2 linked regions of the Homo sapiens genome follow. The main gene of each other region encodes a partner of the protein of the gene in region 2 in a complex. Each region holds a gene or a part of one and is shown on either strand. Other genes may lie near its edges.

Evidence for each region. Proteins that work in one complex are often made in the same cells at the same time.
Region 1: EIF3K (region 2) and EIF3J share a complex: the UniProt entries of both Homo sapiens proteins name them as parts of the eukaryotic translation initiation factor 3 (eIF-3) complex.

Annotation. Positions count from the first base shown.
Region 1 is NC_000015.10:44,550,629-44,554,282, forward strand, and holds part of EIF3J (eukaryotic translation initiation factor 3 subunit J), read left to right. Parts: intron 1-247; coding exon 248-302; intron 303-802; coding exon 803-894; intron 895-3,654. UniProt on the Homo sapiens protein: Component of the eukaryotic translation initiation factor 3 (eIF-3) complex, which is required for several steps in the initiation of protein synthesis.
Region 2 is NC_000019.10:38,622,129-38,625,782, forward strand, and holds part of EIF3K (eukaryotic translation initiation factor 3 subunit K), read left to right. Parts: intron 1-1,948; coding exon 1,949-2,069; intron 2,070-3,654. UniProt on the Homo sapiens protein: Component of the eukaryotic translation initiation factor 3 (eIF-3) complex, which is required for several steps in the initiation of protein synthesis.

The sequences.
Region 1 (3,654 bases), on a different chromosome or scaffold from region 2:
GGGAAATCACTTTAAAACACTTCTGAAAGGTACAAAAATGTACTTGATCAAATGGAAAGACAGTTCTTATTCTTGGTTAGGGCAGCTCAGCATTATAAGATGTCAATTCCCCCTACATTAATTTATAAATTTAATGCAGTACAAAAAAATACCAACAAACATTTCTCTGGAGTTAGTCAAGTTGATAATAAAGTTCACATAGAAAAGCAAACATGCAAGAATTATTAATGGAAGTCCTTTTCTTTAGGATAACTGGGATGACGATGATGATGAAAAAAAAGAGGAAGCAGAAGTAAAACCAGGTGAGCCACTGGGGCGCCTCCATTTTTGTTTTTATGTCTTGCTGAGCATTTGTGACTTGTATTAAGACAAATGACAGAACGCTCACAAAATGGAACATTTTGGTATTTAGAAACCAAGTGTCCTTCCATTCCCACTTTATTCTGTTTTCCCTGCAACTTTTCTCTATCGCCTCAAAATATAATCAGATTAGATACTTGCTGTATTTCTGTATGAGTGCTTGTTAGTAGGAAAGGGTAGAGGTTCTGGCATTAATTATAGTTGAATGATCTAAGCCCTGCCTATAGGACGGTGGGGAAATATGAAGAGATATTTGGATCTTAGGGGTCACATTAGAGAGGAGAAGGAAGAGTCCCAGAAGTTTCCCATTATTTGTGAGAAAAATCACTGTTTGAAGCTGGGAAAGGTTTGGTCTCTTAATAGTATACAAGTATCATGTCTGTCTCATCCATAAACTGGAAAATACTCAGTATAACTGAATAAAACTTTTTTTTACTTTTAGAGGTAAAAATTTCAGAAAAGAAAAAAATAGCAGAGAAGATAAAAGAGAAAGAACGGCAACAGAAGAAAAGGCAAGAAGAAATTAAAAAGAGGGTAAATTCTGTTTTCTAAAATACAGAATTCTCACATCGGTAGTGGTATAGTTTCTAACAGGCTGCAAATATTACCTAGGAATTTGAAGGGCTCTGTGAAGACTGTAAATGGATACCATAAGATAGGTAAAATCCAAAACAAATTGATTTGTGGTTTTTGCAAAAACAGAACCCAGTTTTATATATGAGTGTCTTTTAAGTTTTCACAAACATTCAGGAATAGTCATGATAGTGCAGTGACTACAGTCAGTGATTTTTGCCAGTGCCTGTAGTTCATTCTAGTCAGCAGTATTAGTTTTTGTTGTTGTTTTTTGTTTTTTTTTTTTGGAGACGGAGTCTTGCTCTGTCGCTAGGCTGGAGTACAGTGGCACAATCTCGGCTCAGTGCAACCTCTGCCTCCCGAATTCAAGCCATTCCCCTGCCTCAGCCTCCTGAGTAGCTGGGACTACAGGAGCCACGGCGAGCTAATTTTTTGTATTTTAGTAGAGATAGGGTTTCACCATGTTGGCCAGGATGGTCTCAATCTCCTGACCTCGTGATCCACCCGCCTCGGCCTCCCAAAGTCCTGGGATTACAGGTGTGAGCCACCGCGTCTGGCCAGGATTAGTTTTTATTTGCAGTGTATATATTGAACATAATATAAAAATTGTTCATTTCTGTGCCATGTGCTATATAAATGTATTTGTTTTTGATTTTTTGGCACAGGATCAGAAATATATGCTTGTTTTTTTTTGTTTTTGTTTTTAGACAGAGTCTCACTCCGTTACCTAGGCTGGAGTGCAGTGGTGTGATTTTGGCTCACTGCAGCCTCCACTTCCCAGGTTCAAGCAATTGTCATGCCTCAGCATCCCAGGTTGGAATTACAGGCACACGCAACCATGCCTGGCTAATCTTTGTATTTTTAGTAGAGATGGGGTTTCGCCATGTTGGCCGGGCTGGTCTCAAACTCCTGACCTCAAGTGATCTGCCTGCTTCGACCTCCCAAAGTGCTGGGATTACAAGCATGAGCCACCACGTCCAGCCTATTTTCTATTTCTTTTCTTTTCTTTTTTTTTTTTTAGAGATGGAGTTTCACTCTAGTCGCCCAGGCGGGAGTGCAATGGCGTGATCTTGGCTCACTGCAACCTTCTCCCGGGTTCAAGTGATTCTCCTGCCTCAGTCTTCGAGTAGCTGGGACTGCAGGCATGTGCTACCATGCCCAGCTAATTTTGTATTATCAGTAGAGATGGCATTTCACCGTGTTGGCCAGGTTGGTCTCAAACTCCTGACCTCAGGTGATCCACCCGCCTTGGCCTCCCAGAGTGCTAGGATTATAGGCGTGAACCACTGTGCCTGGCCTATTTTCTATTTCAGAACACATTTACATGGTTCAAAAATTAAAACAGCCTGCGTGGTGGCTCATGCCTGTAATTGCAACGCTTTGGGAGGCTGAGGTGGGAGTATTGCTTGAGTCCATGGATTTGAGACCAGCCTGGACAACATAGGGAGACCCCGTCTCTACAAAAAATAGAAAAATAAGCTGGGCGTGGTGGTACATGCCTGTAGTATCAGCTGCTTGGGAGGCTAAGGTAGGAGAATCACTTGAGCCCAGGAAGTTGAGGCTGCAGTGAGCCATGACTGCGCCACTACACTCCAGCCTAGGTGACAGAGCAAGATCCTGCCTCAAAACAAAAAAAAAAAGAAGAAAACGGCCAGGCGTGGTGGCTCACGCCTGTAATCCTGGCACTTTGGGAGGCCGAGGCAGGCAGATCACAAGGTCAGGAGATCGAGACCATCCTGGCTAACACGGTGAAACCCCGTCTCTACTAAAAAATAGAAAAATTAGACGGGCGTGGTGGCGGGCGCCTGTAGTCCCAGCTACCTGGGAGGCTGAGGCAGGAGAATGGTGTGAACTCAGGAGGCGGAGCTTGCAGTGAGCGGAGATCGCACCACTGCACTCCAGCCCGGGCGACAGAGCGAGACTCCATCTCAAAAAAAAAAAAGAAAAAATAATTATATTCCAGTATAAAGAGAAGATAGATATACACTAAGCTGTCAACTGTCATGTCAGAGAAGTGGGTTTGGGAAACAAATGACATCTACTATTATATCTTTAAAATTTGTTATAGTGGTAATTTTATAATTATACAATATGATGAAAAGGGGAAATGTTTTGAACCATTCTGTTGGACATTTAGGTTGTCTGTAAATTTATTTGAAATTATGAATAATACTCTAATGTACATTCTTGGGCTTACATATTTGTGTGCATCTTATTTCTTAAGGTAAATACCTGGAAGTAGAATACTTGATTAAAGCATGTAAAAATATTATTTAAGACTTGATCCATATTACCAAGTTGCCCTAGAAAGGGTTTTCCAATATAGTTTTAGTAGCAGTGTATGAAAGTAATATTTTTACCTTGTCCACAGTCTCAATTCCTTTTTTTAAAAAAGGTTATAGAAGTAACCCCAGTCTTCCTGGGTACAAATCTGTCACGTTACCAGCTGTTACCTTCTATTTAGTTGTGGGCAGGTTGTTTCTTTGTGCCTCCATTGCTTATCTTTAAAATTGGGTTAAGGATACCTAAAGTGGACTGGGCGCAGTGGCTCACACCTGTAATCCCAACACTTTGGGAGGCTGAGATGGGCGGATCACTTGAGGCCAGGAGTTCAAGACCGGCCTGGCCAACATGGTGAAACCCCATCACTGCTAAAACTACAAAAATTAGCTGGATGTGGTGGTGCACGCCTGTAATCCCAGCTACTCGGGAGGCTGAGGT
Region 2 (3,654 bases):
ACCTTCTTGCCCAGGCTAGAGTGCCTTGGCGTGATCTCATGATCTCAACTCAGTGCATCCTTTGCCTCCCAGGTTCATGTAATCCTCCTGCCTCGGCCTCCTAAGTAGCTGTACGTATCGGGGGGCCTGCCCCGATAATCACGTAGGTTCTTTTCTATATTCCTAAGCATTGGCTGGCTTGAGAAATAGAAGGACAGAGTACAAAAGAGAGAAATTTTAAAGCTGGGCGTCCGGGGGAGACATCACACATTGGTAGGATCCGTGATGCCTCACAAGCCACAAAAACCAGCAAGTTTTTATTAGGGATTTTCAAAAGGGGAGGGAGTGTGCGAATAGGTGTGGGCGACAGACATCAAGTACTTAACAGGGTAATAGAATATCACAAGGCAAGTGGAGGCAGGGCGAGATCACAGGACCACAGGATCAAAGCGAAATTAAAATTGCTAATGAAGTTTTGGGCACCACTGTCATTGATAACATCTTATCAGGAGACAGGGTTTTGAGATCAACCGGTCTGACCAAAATTTATTAGGCGGGAATTTCCTCTTCCTAATAAGCCTGGGAACGCTATGGGAGACGAGTTTATTTCACCTCTGCAATCTCGACTATAAGAGACAGGTACGCCCCGGGGGGCCCGTTCAGAGACCTACCCCTAGGTGCGCATTCTCTTTCTCAGGGACGTTCCATGCTGAGAAAAAGAATTCAGCGATATTTCTCCCATTTGCTTTTGAAAGAAGAGAAATATGGCTCTGTTCTGCCCGGCTCACCGGCAGTCAGAGTTTAAGGTTCTCTCTCTCATTCCCGGAACAATTGCTGTTATCCTGTTCTTTTTCCAGGGTGCCCACATTTCATATTGCTCAAACACACATGTTGTGCAATTTTTGTAGTTAACGCAATTATTACAGGGTCCTGGAACGATATACATCCTCCTCAACTGACAGGATTAAGAGATTAAAGTAAAGACAGGCATAGGAAATCACAAGGGTATTGATTGGGGAAGTGATAAGTGTCCATGAAATCTTTACAATTTATGTTTAGAGATTGCAGTAAAGACAGGCATAAGAAATTACAAAAGTATTAATTTGGGGAACTAATAAATGTCCATAAAATCTTCACAATCCACGTTCTTCTGTCATGGCTTCAGCCGGTCCCTCCGTTTGGGGTCCCTGACTTCCCGCAACAGGTACGCACCACCATACCCAGCTAATTTTTGTATTTTTAGTAGAGACAGGGTTTTGCCATGTTAGCCAGGCTGGTCTCGAACTCCTGACCTCAGGTGATCCACCCGCCTTGGCCTCCCAAAGTGCTGGGATTACAGGCGTGAGCCACTGCACCCAGCCTAATTTTTGTATTTTTAGTAGAGACGGGGCTTTGTCATGTTGGCCAGGCTGGTCTCGAACTCCTGATCTCAGGTGATCCGCCCATCTCGGCCTCCCAAAGTGCTGGGATTACAGGCTTGAGCCACCCACCTACCCACCCCCACCGCCACCTTCTGTTGTCCTCTTTTGCAAGGGAGGAAACCGTCAGCCCCTCAGTTTCCTTTCTCTGCTCCTCAGCCTTTCAGTGCCTCTTAATCTCTCTCTTCTCTGCTCCTCGTGTCATAAATAAGCAGTCCAAGGTCACTCAGCAGGGAAGTTTAAACCGAGGCAGTCTGGCTCTGGTTCCTTAGCCACTACTCCAGACCACTGCTGCTGTTCTCATTTGTTTATAAATCACTTAGCAGTGTCTGCCCCATTGGGTAGTTGTGAGCATTAACTGTCCCTGTTCACAGAGGAGAAAGGTAGGCTCAGGGAGGTGAAGGTTACACAGCTGGGAAGCACTGGGACTGGGATTGGAACCCAGGCATGTCCAATTCCCAAACTCCAGAATAAAGCAGCTGCCTGGCACCTGGTGAGGATTGGGGACTTGGAGGTGCCACTGTGGCCACGTCTCTTGTTCTTTTTCTTAGGTACCAGTTCAACCCAGCCTTCTTTCAGACCACGGTCACCGCCCAGATCCTGCTGAAGGCCCTCACCAACTTGCCGCACACAGACTTCACCCTGTGCAAGTGCATGATCGACCAGGCACATGTATCCTTCCAGCACTGGGGCCGGGGGGTGTGTGGGAAGGGGTCAGAGTCAAGGTGCATGAATTCCCAGGGAGATGGTCTGTGGGTGTATCCACAAACAACAAGTGCCTGCTCTGGTCCAGCGTGGCAAGGTGCTGGACAGTGCTGGGACACTGGTGACTGAGACAGTCCTGGGCCCTGTCTTCACAAAGTTGTCGCAGTCCAGTGAAGAGTCAGTGATAGACTGGAGTGGTCAGGGTTGGGTTACAAGAGTCACAGCAGCCGGGCACAATGACTCAGGCCTCTAATCCCGGCACTTTGAGAGGTCAAGGTGGGTGGATCACCTGAGGTCAGGAGTTCGAGACCAGCCTGGCCAACATGGCGAAACCCCATCTCTATTAAAATACAAAAAATTAGCCAGGCACAGTGGCACACACCTATAGTCCCAGTTACTCAGGAGGCTGAGGCAGGAGGATCACTTGAAGCTGGGAGATGGAGGTTGCAGTGAGCCGAGATTGCGCCACTGCACTCCACCCTGGGTGACACAGTGAGACTCTGTCTCAAAAAAAAAAAGAAGAGCCAGAGTAGGCACCTGACCATTTGGGTGGGGGAATATGTGGACATGAACACAGCCATCTGTATTTACATTCTATAGAACAATGTCTGGAAAGGTGGAAAGGTACCCAAGAATTGGAAATGACTGTTACCTCCCAGGAAGGATGGCTGTGAGACAGGGAAGGGAAGACCTATTTTGCCACTGTTCACTCTTCTGTATTTTTAACTAGAAACTATAAACCAGGGCCTCCTGGAGGAGGGAACATCTAAAACATAACGAGTTAGGTGGAGGGGTAGGCAAAGGTGATCCAGGCAGAGAGGACACTCATGGGCTAAAGGAAGCAGAGCTCGGTGCTGTCTTTCAGGAATGGTAGAGGAAGCCTGACATAGGAATGATTTAAGGTGGGTTTTTTTTTGTTGTTGTTTTATTTTATTTATTTTATTTTTTTTTTGAGACGGAGCCTTGCTCTGTCACCCAGTCTGGAGTGCAGTGGCGTGATCTCGGCTTCCTGCAACTTCCACCTCCCAGGTTCAAGCTATTCTGTCTCAGCCTCCTGAGCAGCTGGGACCACAGGTGCATGCATGCTACCACGCCCAGCTAATTTTTGTATTTTTAGTAGAGACGGGGTTTTGCTATGTTGGCCAGGCTGCTCTCGAACTCCTGACCTCAGGTGATCCACCCGCCTCAGCCTCCCAAAGTGATAGGATTACAGATGTGAGCCACCGTGCCCAGCCTATAGGTTTTATTTTATTAGTAATAATAGTAGGGTTTTTTTGTTAATATTTTCTTTTTTTTTGAGATGGAGTCTTGCTCTGTCATCCAGGCTGGCGTGCAAAGGCGTGATCTTGGCTCACTACAACCTCCTCCTCCCGGGTTCAAGTGATTCTCCTGCCTCAGCCTCCCAAGTAGCTGGGACTATAGGCACGTGCCACCACACCCAGCTGCTTTTCGTATGTTTAGTAGAGATGGGGTTTCGCTATGTTGGCCAGGCTGGTGTCGAACTCCTGACCTCAGGTGATCCACCCGCCTTGGCCTCCCAAAGTGCCAGGAT